Linked DNA regions of Homo sapiens: region 1 is linked to region 2. The links come from fine-mapping of genetic effects on gene expression. A gene starts in region 2. The other region holds a variant in brackets. All regions are shown on one strand. Distances are between the middles of the regions. Region 1 overlaps TCAF2 (TRPM8 channel associated factor 2). Region 2 holds the start of TCAF2 (TRPM8 channel associated factor 2).

What was found. PIP is the estimated chance that this variant, and not a neighbour inherited with it, causes the effect.
Region 1: its variant is fine-mapped to the expression of TCAF2 in whole blood (TOPMed, PIP above 0.99).

Annotation. Positions count from the first base shown.
Region 1 is chr7:143,728,553-143,737,848 of GRCh38, reverse strand. It overlaps TCAF2 (TRPM8 channel associated factor 2), which reads right to left. Exons shown (of 8, transcript NM_001363538.2): 8 at 7,439-9,296. Among named protein-coding and RNA genes, the nearest start is that of CTAGE6, 24 kb to the left of the region's middle. The variant A/G (reference allele first, on the strand shown) is at 5,521.
Region 2 is chr7:143,616,914-143,626,209 of GRCh38, reverse strand. It overlaps TCAF2 (TRPM8 channel associated factor 2), which reads right to left and starts at 5,236. Exons shown (of 8, transcript NM_001363538.2): 1 at 5,190-5,236. LOC101928466 (a long non-coding RNA gene) reads left to right here and starts at 7,501. Exons shown (of 4, transcript XR_007060573.1): 1 at 7,501-9,041. RefSeq lists a silencer at 5,172-5,331.

The sequences.
Region 1 (9,296 bases), 110 kb before region 2:
AGAAAAATGAAGTAGAGCTACACAAATCAACACAGACGATGTCACAGTATTGCACTAAAGAAGCAAGTCATAAAAGATTACATATAATATAACTTTCTTGTATTCTTATACAGTTTAAAACAAGTTAAAACTAAACTATGTAGTTTAAGTTTGTGCACATAGGTAGTAAAACTAAAGGAGCAAAAGGAATGATCACAGAAGTCAGATTAGTGTTCCATCTGGTGGTAGGAGAGGGACAATGAACTTGGAGGAACATATGGAGGACTTCAATTATTGGCAACATTCTATTTCTTAATCTGTTGCTGATCTGATTGTTCCCTTTCTAATTATTATTTAAATTGTACATATGCTTTTAGATACATTTTTTATGAGCACAGTGTATTTCATTAAAAAAAGAATATTGTTGGGTTGCATCTTCTGACACTAAAAGTAAATTGGTTTGGGAAATTTTTATGGATAACACAAGTAGAGAGCATATTGACCAGTCAATTGCTTCATGGGAAGGGTAACATAAATATCTCTTTTAAATTAAAACCACGGCAAGAGACTGTGTTTGCCACAATGGGAACAATTTCACTGTTTCAACTGGTGATCAGGAGCTGAAAGGTTTTCTAAATGGCCACAAGGGAGAGACAAAGAACAAAGATTCTATGCAGAGGACACAGAACTTAAAATGTCGAGGGTTCATTCAAGATAGGAGTGACTTTAATTCCCTTTAGCAGTGCGTGTTATTCCATTTTAACAATATTTGTGAGCAGTAGGAGCTTTGACGGTCCCATTTAGTGTGACCAACCACTAAGGCTTTAATTTTTTCTGAAACTGTTTCGAAATACTAAGTTTTCAAATAAGTCAGGGACTTTAAGGCATTCAGGGGAGGAAATACAAGCAGGGTCATTTTAAATAAAGGTAGGGTCATCTTTAAGGCTGGTCGCTGTTGCTCATGCCGGCAATCCCAGCACTCTGGGAGGCCGAGGCTAGGTGGATCATGTGAGGCAGGAGTTCGAGACCAACATGGCCAAACCCTGTATCTACTAAAAATACAAAAATTAGCTGGGCATGGTGGCAAACACTTGTTGACCCAGCTATTTGGGAGGCTCAGGCAGGAGAATCACTTGAATGCAGAAGGCAGAGATTGCAGTGAGTTGAGATTTCATGACTGCACTCCAGCCTGGGCAACAGAGCGAGACTCCATCTCAAAAACAAACAAAACCACCACCACCAACAACAACAATAAAAACCCACTTCTTTAAAACTTAAAAGTGACCATTATTATTTCCCTAAAGTATTCTAGGGTGATTTCTGCCTCTTGAAATGTCTCCAGTTTGTTGGGAATTTAGATTTTACAGCTATTGGAGCTAATAACCTATGGGAACGTATGTGGTCCCTTATCCAATGCTTTTAGACATAATGAGAGGAGTTGGGGCATCCTTAAAAAGGATAAAAACCTTGAGTGTAAGACCTGCTTCCTCTAAGACTCCATCAAGCTCTTATTTTGAATCGCAGAATCTTTAAAACCCTCCAGTCTAGGTTGGACACGGTCTTGGTATTGGAAAAAAAATCAATTGTATATCCTGAGCGAAGTGTTCCTTGGATGAATGACCTTTACTGTAAAGTAACTGCTTTTTGTGTAACTAGGAATAACCTGATTGGTTTTGGCAGTTGGACTCTGCTTGCTCTGTGATTCAGTATTCAGACACATAGTCTAATGCAGGCAGAGTTACAGGCGATGGCAGATCCAGTAACTCCATAGGACAGTATGCTGGCTGAGAGTGTGGGCTCCAACTTCTAGGGTTGGAAATGTGGCTTCACAGCTTACTAGTTCTCAGCAAAATGAAGAGTGTAATTGTACTTACTCTGTAGGAATGTTGTGAGCATAAATAAATATAAAAGCACTTAAAACAGTTTCTGAAAAGAAGCGGTTTATTGATGATTCACCTAACTTACACTGATATCCTTGGGAGTAAATGTGGTCTGGAAAATAGATTTTTAGGGTCATTGCTTGAATGGGATTATGAAATTATATAAATGCACAATATATTTTTTGTTATAACTCCCGTCTGCTACAATAATTCACGGAATCTTCCCATATGTAACTTTACTAATTCAAACCTGAATGGTCCTCATTTTAACTACCTGTTCAAATGATTTGTTATTTAAGACAAAAACTATGTGGCTGGGAGTAGACTGCATGATCCTATTAAAAGAAGTATCATTTGTGAGGGTGAATCAGTCTCATGCATTGAATATGTATTTATCTAAGTGAAGCACACAGCTGCTTAGGTTCCAGTCTGCAGACCCAGGAAAGCATTGTTCCAACTGAGTGCCTTACCTAAGTGCTGAGAATTTTTTTTTCATCATTGTGAGTGTCCTTGCATGGCTTGGTTCTCCACAGTGGGGCCAATTACACTGGACTTTAATTTCCAAATCTCCACCTAAGTTTTTCTTTTTTAGCAACAGAGAGTGATATGGCCAGGCTTTGTGTCCCCACCCAAATATCACCTTGAATTGTAATACCTAGGTGTTGAGGGAGAGAGCTGGTTGGAGGTGATTGGATCATGGGGGCCAGTTCCCCCCCATGCTGTTCTCGTGATAGTGAGTGAGTTCTGAAGAGATCCGATGTTTTATTAAGTGTTTGGTAGTTTCTCTCTTGCTCTCTCATCACTCACCTGCCACCATGTAAGACATGCTTGCTTTCCTTTTCGCGATGATTGTAAGTTTCCTGAGACTGCCCCAGGCTTGCAAAATTGTGAGCCAACTAAACGTCTTTCCTTTATAAATTACTCAGTCTTGGGTATTTCTTCATAGCAATGTGAAAATGAACTAATACAGACAGTTAGTTGTTTTAGGGCTATTAAGGGCCTAGGAATAAAAAGCAGTGGCTTTGTTGTTGTTAATTCTCCCCTTCCATCTGTACTGCACAATAAAGATGATTGGGTTTTTTTCAGATTATTCTTGATGAAAAGGACAATACATTCAAGAACATTTTATAAATTTGTTGGTAGCCTAGGAAAAAGAAACAAAGGGATCTTTCTTATTGAATTTTAAAACAGAAATGGCTTATCAAACTGCTCCATTGGGCTGCCTTTGGGTTTATCCTCTTGATATGAGGTAATATGATATTTGAAGTGGTGTCTGGGAAGCTGTTCCTCAGGTAAGCTCTTGGTTACTCCTCAGGGTGAGGACTTTTTCTCTCCATCTGTTACTCAACTTCTTTGTTCTCTAGATCTCCAGCTTGAGAGATAGTTTACAATTTCTATCTTAATTTTTTCTCAACACCATTTTTCCCAACCTATGCTTAACATTGCAAAATGATGCTCTCTCCCTTTATCATCTTGAAGAGTTTATAGAGATGATGGTTATATTTTTTTATGAAAAAAGTTTCTCATGGCTTTCCCAAATGAAAAGTGAATCAGTACAAAGAGTTGTGTGTAGAAAATGTAGGAACTTCTGCAAGCTGAGTACGGGACCAAACTGTCCTCCTACCAGAACTGGGAAGTGCACCAATCTTGCACAAGAAGGCTTTTCAAAATGGAAGCCAGGCATGGTACTAAAGACCTTGCAGCAGGAACAAGTTCATGAAAATAATATCCTGAGAAACGCAATCATGCCATGCCTATAAGGAGATAGCATTGACTGAAAAGTAGCTCTCCTTCTTTGGAAACCTTGACCACATTTAACGTCTTGGCTGACCTGCTGTTCATGTGCTAGCTACGTGCTGCTGAGGCCATATTAGCGGGGGGCACTTTTGATCTTAGATGAATCAGTGTATCAGAGATGTACCTGAGCAATACTCAGAAAGGTCTGGTTTCTATTTCAAAGTTTCTGGTGAAGACAGCCTAGGGGCCTGAAGAAATAACTTATCATAGGAAACTAGGTTAGATTCAAAAGTGGAACAACAATTTGAAGTAGGCTAATAGCATCTTTTTGTTTTCTTCTACAGAAATGGAGACTAACAGATAGATGTACCGGTATGAAGGTGCCATGTATAGGCATCTCAGCTGCCTTGTTTTGGAGCTGGGAGGCCATATAAAATAATTTGAATTTTTTTTAGGGGGGTCTTAATTTGTCATTACTGTTATTGTGGGATATATCCCTGTTCCAGAACCTAATAACATGGCAGAACAGGAAAAATGTTAATTCAAAATGAAAGTATCTACACTGTAGTTAACTTTGGCTGGAAATGTTAGCAGAGGAGAGGAATTGACATCGAAATGTAGTAGAAATAGGGCCCAGGAAATGTCAGATAAATACTTTTTTCACCAAAATACAGAAACTCCTGAAAATAGCTTATACTATTCACTGACCAAGTCCCAAGGAAAAGGAGAAATAAGAATTAATGGAAAATTCACTCTCACAGTGCAGCCTGTTTTCAGAAGCTAAAAATAGGAGAATGGTTCTAATCACACTAAAGCTTCTTTCTGGAATAGTGAAACCATTTTCTTGAATAGGGATAAATAACAGAGGTCTTTTCTTCTTCTTCTTCTTTCTTTTTCTTTTCTTTTTTTTTTTTTTGAGACAGAGTCTCACTCTTTTGCCCAGGTTGGAGTGCAGTGGCACGATCTCAGCTCAGGGCAACCTCCGCCTCCCGGATTCAAGTGATTCTCCTGCCTCAGATTCCCAAGTAGCTGGAATTACAGGCATGTGCCACCACACCCAGTTAATTTTTGTATTTTCAGTAGAGACAGGGTTTTGTCATGTTGGCCAGGCTGGTGTGGAACGCCAGACCTCAGGTGATCCGCCTAAAGACAGCAAACATATACAATAGTTGGAAATCCTCATCTAGTCTTCTCCCATTATCATACACTCTTGTTAGTAATGTGTTAATACAATAGACCCCTACACCAAAACTGATATGTGACAGGCCCTGCCCTTGGGGCTGTAGATACAGCTGTGAATAGGGTAGGTCTAGTCCCTGCCCCTATGAAGCTTCCATGTAGTGGGAAAGAGAGATTTTAAACAAATAATTACAAATGTGATGACTGATATATAAAGGAAGTTACAGGTTTTATCGGAACATGAGGCTTAGAGACACGGCTCGAGGAAATGACCTCTGGGTTAAGAGCTGAAGAAAAAAAGAAAACCTTAAAAATACTGATACCCCAATCCAAAGTAATATAGAGAAGTGCCGTCCCTTCTCCAAGGCCACCACTAGCTCATAAAATGCCTCTGTGTGAATTAGAGAATGTCGCTCTTGCTATCCTGGCTGGCTCAGTGGTGGCACCCCAGTGGCCCACCTTTGTGTGTGACCCAAATGGCACGTCCACAAAGTGTGTCCCTTCTCCACAGGGCAGGTTTTGTTTTATTAAAAATACAACACTAAACACTATTTTACCAAATTTAGCAAATGGAGAAAATATACATTGAAATTATTCACATTTGAAAAAGATTGCAGACCATTCAAGTTTAATTAAGTCCTGGTTAAAGATACTTAAAGATTTAACAGGAAAAAACAAAAAGTGAAAATGTTTTAATTTCTTATGATAAATATAAATGATAAATGAGTCCTCACTCTGAAAATAT[A/G]ACTCTAAAAAAGGACATTTTTCTAGTTGACTTTTGTTGTTGTTCTACCCAAAAGGAAGCCCAAACATCAGAAACTTCTCTATTCTATTGTGAAGTGGAGGGAAGGACAGGTGGAAGAAAGGAATGACCCAGGAGCACAGAACAATCTGTAGAAATGAGAAGGAGGGCCGCATTCACGCTGAAATGTGTGCATCACAGCTGGAATAAAGAAAGCAAGGGATAGAGGTGGGAGGCAAATCTGGAAACACTCGCAGAGACCAAATCATGGAAGACTATGTTGGCATGCAAGCTGTGTTGTAAATTTTAATACAGTTTATATCTATCTTGTTTAAAAGGTGTCATGCTTGCATAGGGTAGAAAACATATGTGGTAGAAATACAATATTAAATTACTAACAAAGAGCTTATAAGAAAAACAACAGGAATCTGCCCAAACCCTACTCTGTCTTTATCTCCCCTGTTTCTCTACTCTTTCAATCCTACTCTCCCTAAGAAATTGTTTCAAAACTTAAAAAAAACAAGTCTTCTACTTCTCTTTTTTTCTTTTCTTTTTTCTTTTTTTTGGACGGAGTCTCACTCTATTGTCCAGGCTACAGTGCAGTGGCGCGATCTCAGCTCACTGCAACCTCCAGCGATTCTCCTGCCTCAGCCTCCTGAGTAGCTGGGACTACAGGCATGAGCCACTGCACCCAGCTAATTCTGCATTTTTTTTAGTAGAGATGTGGTTTCACCATATTGGCCAGGCTGGTCTCGAACTCCTGACCTCGTGATCCACCCGCCTCGGCCTGCCAAAGTGTTGGGATTACAGGCGTGAACCACTGCACCTGGCAAAAGTCTTTTACTTCTATAGGTATAAATAGTAGACTTACACCATTACAATTTTACTACAAAATTTCTAAACATAGGCAAAAGTTGAATAAGGATCCTTCAAGAGCCCCTTCACTTAGCTTCAATAACAAACAACATTTGGCACTGTCATTACCAATTCTCCAGTACCAAAGAAAATGTATGCTTCCCAGTACAGCCAGTAAAAGTCTGTCGTATGCACTTCATCACCCTGGCAAGGGCCACCTTCCCATCACTTGAACCAATCCTTGTTGGAAGGTATGGACAATTAGATGAGCATGGATTCTGTGCCCACTCCTGCCAACAGTGTGGGCCAACCCCTTCCAAACCAAGTGGACTCTGTGTTGATGTTGGTGTACCAAAGGAAACCAAAGGAAAACTGATGGGGCTTTTAGCAAAGCAATTGAGTGGCTCATGGGAGGGAAAAGCAAACCAAACCCATGTCCTGTACAGTAGTGATTGGACAAAAATATACAGTCCAAGGGAAATTATAAGCACTAGTTCCAAAGTGAGACAAGCTACATTCAGTATCTATCCTACTGTTCACAGGACATGTTTTTTTCTTTGGGTTGGTTCCAAGACCATCCAATAATTTTCTTCTAATAATTTTTCTAGACTTAGAACTGTGAAATTATGGAAGTAAATGTCTCAGAAATCATGGATCATCCCTATCACTGGCAGCAAATTAGTTTCTGTGAATAGACAAAAGAATCTGAGAATACTGCAGTTACAATTAACTATCAACTTAAAAACAAGAGGCAAAGTCACAGTCTCTCTGTATGAGAGACAAGGAGCTACAGGCTCCAACTTCTACCAGGAAGTGTGTGTGTGTGTAAGAAGCCAGACATTGTCTCTGTTTCTAGGGCAATCTATTAAACCCAGCAGTATCCATCATTTTACCCTAACATCACTGTTGAGAACACCAGTTCTGCAACCTACAGAATGGGAGAAAATTTTTGCAAGCTACCCATCTGACAAGTTCTGATATCCAGAATCTGCAAGGGACTTAAACAAATTTACAACAACAACAAAAACACATCAAAAAGTGGGCAAAGGATATGAACAGACACTTCTCAAAAGAAGACATTTATGTGGCCAATAAACATGAAAAAAAGCTCATCATTACTGGTCATTAGGGAAATGTAAATCAAAACCACAATGGGGTACCATCTCATGCCAGTTAGAATGGCGATCATTAAAAAGTCAGGAAACAACAGATGTTGGTGAGGCTGTGGAGAAACAGGAATGCTTTTACACTGTTGTTGGGAGTGTAAATTAGTTCAACCATTGTGGAAGACAATGTGATGATTCCTCAAAGATCTAGAACCAGAAATACCATTTGACCCAGCAATCCCATTACTGGATATACACCCAAAGGACTATAAACCATTCTACTATAAAGACACATGCACACATACTTTTATTGCAGCATTATTTACAATAGCAAAGACTTGGAACCAACCCAAATGCCCACCAATGATAGACTGGATAAAGAAAATATGGCATATATACCATTGAATACCATGCAGCCATGAAAAAGAATGAGTTCATGTCCTTTGCAGGGACATGGATGAAGCTGGAAGCCATAATTCTCAGCAAACTAACACAGGAACAGAAAACCAAACAACACATGTTCTCACTCATAAGTGGGAGATGAAAAATGAGAACAAATGGACACAGGGAGGGAAACATCACACTGGGGCCTGTCGGGAGGTTGGGGGCAATGGGAGGGAGAGCATTAGGACAAATATCTAATGCATGCAGAGCTTAAAATCTAGATGATGGATTGATAGGTGCAGCAAACCACCATGGCACATGTATACCTATGTAACAAACCTGCACGTTCTGCACATGTATCCCAGAACTTAAATGAAAAAAAAAAAAGAACATCAGTTCTGGAGTTGAATTTCCTGAGTTCAAATTCCTTCTCTACCCAAGGCTGGATGACCCAAAGGCAGACAAATCACATTCTGAGGCAGGCAGAAAATCAGATACCAACACCTTTTTGGAAGTTAAACTTGTTATTGAATGAAAATTCAGTAGTAAACATTGGAAAAATCCAGACCTGGTTGAACATATTTTCATCTATTTTCTAGGTGACATTTTGTTTAAATTGTAAACCATTCATGAAGAATAAGTTCCACAATGTTTTCATTGCTATGGGCTTCAATTAAACCCTGGTTCTTCCTTTTATTCACTTTGTGACTTCAAAAAACTTATTTTATGTCCCTTAGTGTCAGTTTCCTCATGTACGAAATGGGGATCATACTAGTACCTACCTCAGAGGTCTGCTGGGAAGATAACATTAAATCACTCACAGTAAATAGCTCACGCAATGCCTGGAACATACTAATCACTCATTATGTGTTAGGTGTCATTACTGTTCTTTCCTTTGACAAATACTTCATGAACACCTTTGATGTGTAGAGCCCCTGGCAAAGGGTACTAGAGAAATAAAAGGAAATTATCTAGAATTGGGAATTTGTTAAATATGCTGACGGGATTCAGCAAAAGACATGCCCTAAATTAGTTCTCCTAATGGGAAGCCACTCTACTCTCAACATAGCCTAAGGAATGATATTCAAAACAAACAACAATATGGTCTAAAAGTAAACTGGAGAAAGTAGCTAGGCATACACTCATTAATCCCAGAGACAAATCTCCAATGAGAACTCCCTCTAACCGAAGAGTCAAGATGGGCTAGAATGAGATTAAGAGAAAGCTCAGGGGATGCTGGGGTGTGGGTTGATTAAGTGAGGATTACATCCGCTGCACCCAGTAATCCTGTTCCAGAGTGAAGCCCACTGTGCCTGTGGACCCCCCACCACTTGACAGTGCCTTGATTCCATGGTGACCAGAGGAGTCAGATGCCTGTTTTGTGGTATGAACGAATGGGCATATAGACTTAGTAGCAGCTGTTAACATGACTTT
Region 2 (9,296 bases):
CTGTTCTCCACCATCAATCAGAGGGTTCCTTTTGAAATTTAAGTCACATCATAGCAATCTTCTGTAGAGAATACAAAATGTCTTCCCATCTCACTGCAAATAAGGTCTAAAGTTCTACTCCTGGCCTGTCAGTTCTTACATGACCTGAGCTATCATTCACTGAGTTCCCATCATTCTGGCTTCCCTGATTGCCAGGTGTGTCCCTGGCCAATGGATGAAATGAGTACTCAGACACAAGTATGCAGTGTAAGAACAGCTAGGTGACTGCCTGGCTGTAGTGGCCAGAGAGCAGCCCCGAGAAGCTGAAGCTGCTTGCTTTTATTTACTGCAGGCATAATGCCGAAAGCCTGGAGCCTACACAATCTGTAAATGACTAACATTTATTGTTCCTCATTCAGAGAACATCATGTGTGCGGATGTTCAAATGTCAGCTCCTGGACAACTTCAAACAAACAGGCTTGATCAAGACAAATTCTCCTACACTCCCTTGTACCTACTCCTTGCCCTCTGCCTCAGGGTCACAGAACAGCTGCCTTCAGCTATTCTCCCCTGGAGCTTTGCAGAGCCTTCCGACCTTATAGAAGGGCCACTCCCTTTCCCTTGGAACATACTAAGCAGGCTTCCCTTCCAGGTTTTCTCACCCTCACTCCTCACTCTGCCTGGAATCTTCCTCTCACAGATGCCCACATGGCTCATTCCCTCACTTCCTTGAGGTCTCCTTTCAAGTGCTACCTACCAGACCAGCCTTCCAAGCCGGCCATGAGCTTGTTTGCACTCATCTCTATTCCCCTTTCATCTTGGTCATCCTCCGTGTTGCAGAAAACTGCATTTCTTTGGTTCTCCTGTTCCCTGGATCCTGGTGGGTTCAGCCCATGGGAGAGAGAGGTAGAAGACTGAAATCAGGAAGGAAGAAGGAAGGAGTTTAAGTGCTTGCTTCTCTCTTCAGGCTGTATTTCTGGTAACCACAGTGTCTTCTCTGAGACTCCAGCTTCTAGCAGACAGACCTTTCATCTGTGGTTCCAGCTCCTGCTGGGAAGGCATAGCATGGCTCCAGCTTCTACCAGGTGGCCGCAGCACCTGGACTTCAGTAATACCACCATCTCCCTCTGCTGGTTCTGCTGTTGCTGATCTCTGGGTTACTTGCTGTCCCCTGTGTGTATTTTCAGCTCCTCTATCATGGGTATAGTCAATTCCCCATACTAAATCCCTTCTGCTAGCAACGCCAACAAATCCTGACCAATCCAACTTGGTCTGACTGATAGGACTTCCCTGAACATCTTAAATAAAATAGCCTCCATCAGCCTTCCTGTTGTCATGCTATCCACTTATATTATCATCTTTCATGGATCTTAGCAATACCTGATAGAGCACATATATATTAGTTTCCTTAATACCTATCTCTCCCCTGGAATACAAACCTCATGATGGCATGACTTGCCTGCCTCGATCTCTGCTAGACCCCCATTGTCCAGAATGCAGCATGATCAACAATCGGTGCTCACACAAACAAACAAATATTCTTTCATGCATTTAAGAGGTATTGATGAGCACTCTCTAGGTTCTATTTACTAGACATGGAGATAAAGTGGTAAGACAAGCTTTTCTATTCAGCTTTGGCCACAGGAGGGAGTGGCAGTGAGGGCCCAGCCTCTCTTGTGTCTTGGTGCATTTTAATCATCCTGCTTTTGATTTGTGGTGGTTCCAAACTGAGTGGAAAATCACCTGTATTGCAATGGAAGCTTGTTGAAGAGGGGAACCAACTCTATTGTTTATCCTGAGTCAGACTCCCTAAGAGGGGAACAAACACTCACCTGACATGGAGTGGGATCTTGGGCACCTTCTTAGAGACCTTGAACCGGTCTCTGTCCCCATAGGTGTCAGTGAAGTACACTCCGGCTACACTTGTCACCTTGTTCCCAGGGAACCTGGAGAGCACCTTGTCAGGGCCGTGCTGGCTGGCCCAGTACCAGGCCTGGCCCCCGATTAACAAGCCCCCTCCATGTTTCACAAACTGGATCAGCGTTGCAGTCAAGGTGTCATTGTAGGCATTGATACAGTAAACCCCTAGGGGCTCTCCTGGTTCTGGCTTGACCTGTGCCTCAAGCCCAGCATCCTGTAGGATGTTTACTAGAGGTGCCAGGGATGGACGCACTCCCACGGGAGCCCCAGGACAGGGACAGAGCCAGCTCACTGCATTGAGGAGAAATGAAGCCAAGCCAGCATGCGACAGGTAGCCCTCATGGGACACAACCACGAGGCGGCCTCGGCCGTAGGAGGAGGCAGCAATGAGCACCTGGCCCTTGTCATTCACCATCACGGGGAAGGCGGCTTCTCCAATAAGAAGGAGTTCACTGGGGATGGGGCCTCTGGGGACATCCCAGCATGTCACTCCATCCATGAGGGCCTCAAACGCAGCAGCAGCAATGGTCGCCATGGTTCTATCAGCTGCTGCAGGGGGAAGCAAAGACTTTCATGTATTTAAGAGATACTGATAAGCACTGCTGGTCAGAACAGATGAAGGAACAGGTGAAAAAAGCAAACAACTAAATGCATTCACCTCCAAATTTTACTGGATTCCCCATTGTGGGCCAAGCACTGTTCTAGCACTGGGAGTACAGCAAGAAACAAAACAGATAAGGTTTCCCTTTTCGTGATTTGAATATTTTAGAAGGAGAAAGATAATGAATAAATAGGTAGATAAACAGATAAATAAAATGCAACAATCACTATGATGAAAATAAAACACAATGATGTGACATGGAGGAACTGGAAGACTACTTTAGATTGGGTGATAGGAAAGGACTCTGACAAAGTGGCATTGAAGCTGAAACCTGAAATGCAGTGAGCAAAGGGCATTCCAGCAACGAGACCACTTTGGGGTGGCTGAGAGCCAGGAGCAGGGAGGAGCAGGACCCCAGGAGGAGGGAGGGACGGGCTAGATCCTGCAGGGCCAGTAAATCAAGGTGATAGTTAAGTTCGTGTGCCTGAGTGGACACAGTGCTTGATTTTTTTGAACAGAAAGGTCATAGACCTGTCAAAACATGCCTTTCTTCTGACAGCTTTGCTAAGTTGGAAAGTGCCCCCTAATTTATCAAATCTGCCCTAATGGAGAGGACCCTCCTCTATTTGGTAGCATTATGCAGTTTCCGGAGGTCTTTTAAAATTGGCTGTGCCTAACACTGAGACTATTTGTCCCTTTAAGCAGCCCCTCTTGGATAAATGACTTCAGTCTCAGTTTCCCCATCTACAAAAAGAGAATAATACAGCCATGGGAAGATTGTTTTTGAAGATTAAAGGAATATGGATAGGCCAGGCGCAGTGGCTTATGTCTGTAATCCCAGCACTTTAGGAGGCCGAGGCCGGTGGATCACCTGAGCTCAGGAGTTTGAGACCAGCCTGGCCAACATGGCGAAACCTGTCTCTACTAAATCTACAAAAAATAGCTGGGCATGGTGGCGTGCACCTGTAATCCCAGCCACTTGGGGAGGCTGAGTCATGAGAATTTCTTGAACCCTGACGGTGGGGGGCGGAGGTTGCAGTGAGCCGATATCGCACCAGTGGACTCTAGCCTGTGCGAGAGAACAAGACTCTGCCTCAAAAAATAAAATAAAATAAAATAAAATAAAATAAAGTAAAGTAAAATAAAATAAAGCAAAGAATATGTCTAAAAATGCCTTGTCTGGGGTTGGTACACATACAGTGAGCACGGAATAAACGAGAGTGTCTGTCCCTTTGCTGTCCTTTTAAGTTTCCCGGGTTGCCGAGGGCAGCGTTGCAGATTGCAGTAGTGCAGTAGTCCCCTGGCTGCCTGTGCCGCCTCCCTTTGCGCGTCTCTGACGAGCCCACTGTAAGGGACTTTCCTCTGTGCTCTGATGGCTTCTCACCTCTGCAGGTGCACAAGGCAGCCCTGAAGTAGCGGTGAGTTGACACTAGGGTGAGCTTCGCCCAGTAGAGCGGGGATTCACAGAAGAGTGCCCCGTGGCTTTCCCGAGGTGCCCATCAGAGGTCCTCGGAAGGCACCCGGAGGAAAGGAGCGCCATGTGGAAGACCCTCAGCCACATGCTCCTCCTGGCTTTCCCTTTTTTCCTTGTCTCATTCTCTCCACTTCCTCATTTGGGCTTTTTGGTCTCACTTACCCCCAAAAAATTACCTGCAGGTAAGCCCTTGCATAAGGCTTTGCTTTAGGGCAGAATCTAAACTAAAACACACACCAAGCCCTTGAGCCACAAGTGCCTCCTTCCTCTCTCCCTCCTGCTTCTATATGCAGTCAACCACCTCATTTGGTTAATCTCTCACCATCTCTCTCAAACATCAGTCCCTTTAGTTGGCAATCATTCCAGACTAAACCAATATGGTTTTAGTCCCCAGGATGTATTCTCATCCACAATCGTCCTCTACAAGAACTCTAACAAGAACCGTTACATTTCGTCCACTCTCTCTAAGGTGAAACTTGCAGAGCGCCTCAGCCTGGCTTCTCCAGGGTCTGGCATGCCAGTGATTACTGGACGTTTTTCCTGCTACTTTCTTCCACTAAATCTCTCCAAGCTCGGAAAGGTTGGCATTCTGAGCATGCCCTGCATTTCCTGTAGAATTCCATCTCTTCCCCTCTTCCCTTCCTATCCGCCACCTTTTTCTTAATACTGCTCGCGGGAAAGAAATTCACAAAAGAGAGCCAATACTCGGCAGAGCATTGAGAATGCGGGTACCTGATCTCAGCCTCAGAAGTTACCAGTGGAAAAAAGCAGCCGAGAGAGATCCGGAAGCCTGAGCTCAAGATCGTGCTAGCTACCTCCCAGAAGACAAGCGACGTCTTTCACTTCTGGGGCAGTACCAGTTTGACAGGATAAACAAAAACAGACAAAAAACCTCAGATGAGTAATATGTCCCGGAAAGCTGACCCAGCATTCCGCAACGAAATGTGCCCTCGTGCACGCACACACCATGCACATCTTTGTCAAATTCGTAATTTACAAGTTCAAATAGGAGGGAGAAACGTGTTTTGAGACAAACTGCAAATAGCACCAGACTAACAAAACGAAATGAAACCAAAGACCTAGACCTAAGAAGGGAGGGACACCCCCTGACGCCGGGTATGGTCTGGGGCCTCCAGCACTTTGCGGCGACCCCCAGTGCCCTAGGTGCTCAGCTACCGCCCCCACCCCAGGACCCGCTGGGATTGGAAAACTCACCCCTGAGCAGTGCGGATACCTAGGGACTGACGGACAGGCTCTGCAGTGGCGCGCGGGGGACGGGTCGGAGGCGAGGCGGGGCGGGGCGGTCCCGGAGGCGGGGCGGTCTCGGAGGTAGGGGCCGTCCTGGAGGCGGGGCCGTCTCGGAGGCGGGACTGTCCTGGGGACTGAGCTGTCTCGGAGGTGGAGTCCTGCGGTCCCGGAGGCGGGTTGTACCGTAGGCGGGGCTCTCTCGTAGGCTGGCCGGTCCTGGAGGAGAGGCTGTTCTGGCGGCGGGGCTGTCTTGGAGGCTAGGAGGTCTCGGAAACTGGGCTGTCCCGGAGGCGGGGCACAGGCTGGGGTGAGGCGGAGCCGACCCTGAGGCGGGCCCGGGGCGCGGCTACCGCTCCCTGAGCCACGCCCGTGGTCTCCCGTTCCATCGGTGGACCCCACCTCGGGCCGTGCTGCGGGCTCTCGGGGCGCCTACCAGGTGAGCGACCCCGCCTTCCCGGAGGGATGCTTTGGCCTGCATGGGGCCCCAAACCGGCTCCCTCAGGGTCTCTGCGGGTTCTTGGATGCGAGAGGGGACCCAGCCAGTTTGCTGTCGCACTTGATAAGAAAAGCAAACCCTAAGTCTCCAATAAACCATATTTGGGGCGAATAGTTCCCTAACAACAACGTATGCCACGGGGGAGGCCCCGCGTGGAATCAGGCTCCCTTCCCTCCGATCTTGGGGTGGGCTCAGCAGAGCCGGTAGCCGCCGCGTCGCCTCCGTCGCTCGAGCCTCTGCGTGGAGGGCTGCCCCCTAGTGGTCAGCTGCGGGCCATGCACTTCGAGCCCGGTGGATGCTTATGGCCATGGTGCGGGGTGCTCAACTAGGGCATTTTTCTCTCAAAGTATCCACAGAAATGCTGCCCAGCAAGTTATATTCTTGCTGGGAGGGAAACGTGCCTGTGGCATCACTAACACAGATTCGTCCGTGCATGGCTGGAGAAATTAAGCTAAAGCTATAGAGTGGCTGGTGCTCGAATTTCTACGCAAGAGAGGTCAGAAGGTGAAAATCAAGGTGGAAGGGTGTGGTCAGGAGGAGGATTTGGTGTAGTCTGGAGTTTAGGAACGTCTTACCTAGGAAAGTGATGACTGTGCTAGAATGAGGGGAAAAAAGTAGTCTGTCTGCATTTTGCCCACCATTGAGTCCTCATTGCCTATTTTCATTTCTGACATAGAATAGGCTTTAGTTTCTTAATAAATAACTAAATATATGCTAAATAAATAAGGATATAGTGAACGTCCAAAAATATCTGTCGAATTAGTGAGTTAATAACTGACTCTTCGGAGGACTAGTGGAAATCTGATTGGCAGAGGACCAAATACATTCAGGTTTCAGAAATAAAGAGCAAGGAGAAACTTACACAGAAAAGAAATTGTGGATAAGACTTGCCAGAATTTGGAATAATTCCGGCTAGAAATCCAACGTGCGGTGAAGTACGTTGAGTTCTTAGGCTTCATATCAGGGAACAACTGACCTTTGGGAGCTGAAGTGGGAGATGGACATCAAAGAAAGTGGGTCAGTAAAGTTCCACGTTAAAAGCTGATTCAGGCCCGGGTGCGGGGGCTCACTCCTGTAATCCCAGCACTTTGGGAGGCCGAGGTGGGTGGATCACCTGAGGTCAGGAGTTCAAGACCAGCCTGGCCAACATGGAGAAACCCCGTCTCTCCTAAAAATACAAAAATTAGCCGGGCGTGGTGGCACAGGCCTGTAATCCCAGCTACTCGGGAGGCTGAGGCAGGAGAATTGCTTGAACCCGGGAGGCGGATGTTGCAGTGAGCAGAGATCATGCCACTGCCCTCCAGCCTGGGCGACAGAGCGAGACTCCGTCTCAACAACAACAACAAAAAGCTGGCTCGGTATCTTTTGTGTGTTTGTACTCTTAGGTTTTAACCAGTCTCCACCTACATCAACCTCACTCCTCATGGTAAAGTACTACTATTGTTCTAAATTAACTCCTGAGAGTATTTTGGTGTTGCTCTAATAGAAGAAAGGGGCTTTAAACAAAGGTGATTTTTCCAGGGTCAGAGAGCAGAAAGTACCTGCCATTTGGGAGCAGGAGCTGCCTGAGGAATGGAACCTAACAACATAGGAACGGCATAACGGTTCCTAAAAAAAAAAAAAAAAAAAAAAAAGAAGAAAAAAAAGATTAAAGATGGTAACCAGCATTTACGTTCTGACTAAAGGGTGTCCGAGAGAGAATACAGTCATGGGTTCTTAGTTTCTGTTTTTGGTTAGGCGAGTAAAACCCCTTCCTCATCCCTCTTTTCCCCTTTCACTAGAGACAGAAACTAAAAACCGTGAGTTCAGGCAGCTAGAAACCTAAAATAAAAGAAAACGGAACAACAACAACAACAACGAAAATAAGGTGGGTTGGATAAGCTTCGAAATGGTTACTGCTTATGCAAAGGTGCAGGCCCCAGATCTTTCCTTTTACTTGGGAGAAAACAGACGCCATTCAGTGAAAGTCAACATATCCTTACTGGACACTTATTCTGTGAGGCACTCTGGGAGATAGAAATGCTATTATGGTCAGTAAATCTAGAGAGGAAAAAAGACAAGAAAACAACTATACCAAAATTGGCTACGAATCAGGTGCAAGGGCACATAAAAGAAGCAGCAATTATTTCTGATCAAAGGATTAGAGAAGAATGTGCACAGAAGGTGACACAGAAACTCAGCTTAGAAAAATGTATATTTGCGGGGAGATAAAGGGGAAGGTATTACAATGTGAGGCTGTATAAGATTCCAAAGCACAGAGATATGAATGTGAAAGGCTTAATTTGAGAAAGACAAAATGTTCATAGTGACTGAAACTTGTTAGCAGAACTTGCATAGTGCTAGCTCTAAAGAGAAGTTTGGGCTCGGTTTAGAGGGACTTTGGCTGCCATACTAGGGAGTTTGGATTCCATTCTACAGTGTGGAGGAAGATTTTTTAAAAGCACCATTTAGTAAACACTGTGGTTGCCTCCTCAACATCTATTCCCTACACTACCCCTATTGTCCTTTCTAACCAAATCCATTTTTTTTTTAAATCAGATAATCCACCTCTCCTTTATGAGATTCAGGGGACAATGAATTCATCTCCATTTCCAAGGATAGATCTGTATTAGCTTAAATCAGGCAGGCTAACTCATACTTCTTGTGCTTCCATGACAGACTCTTTCTGGGTTATACGTAATAAATATACATAAACAATATTATACTTCATTGTCCAGCATATACAAGAGGCAAACACAAATCAGAAATATTATCTTTACCAGTGGTACATGAGTCCATTTTTTGTCAAATAGAGAGCAATTGCTGCAGTAATTGCAGTTTATCACTAAGCCAGATGCAGGGGTTACTCATACATATGCCTTCTAATTGTGGGCTACTATTAATAGTCACTGGCCTCCTTCTTAAATTATTTTCAGTCATGAGCTTAACTTAATGTGGTACCATATATTCTTTCTTTTAAGGACCTTAAGAATCTGGGAAGAATTAGCCACACTCTAATTTAGGAACAGAGATGGATGAATCCACCTATGGACATTTACTGGTATGAGTCACTGGGGAAGTTCACTAAGTCACTATTTAAGATGATCCAGAACAGGTGTCTACAGCTGCCTTAAGAATGAGTACTATGGTGGTGATGAAAATGTTCCTCTCAGATGTCCAACTGCAGGGGGTGGGTATGAAATTGCCAGATGGCCCCAGCTGGTGTGCTCTGGAATCCTTGGCGCCAAGGCCATGCTGCCAGGGGCTTCTCCAGGCTGGTGATCAAATGTAGTGAGGATCCTCAGGCAGGCCCATTCCTGGAAGACATGGGACTCTCCCGATAGGTGAGTTTGGCTCAAGGACTCCTCATGGTCCTGAAAGAAACTCTCTGAGACCTGTACTTCAGTGGAAGCCTGTCTTTCCTTTGCTGTCTCCTTCCCAAGGGTTAAACCTACATTGCAGTCTAATGGTGGCTCTCCCGGCCTTCTCTGGCTCCCTCGACATTTTCTCTCACAGGCATTTCCTTTAATAAATCTCTCGCATATCTGATCCTGTCTTGGCTTTTGCTTCTTGGAGGACCCAGAATAACACAAGTACTG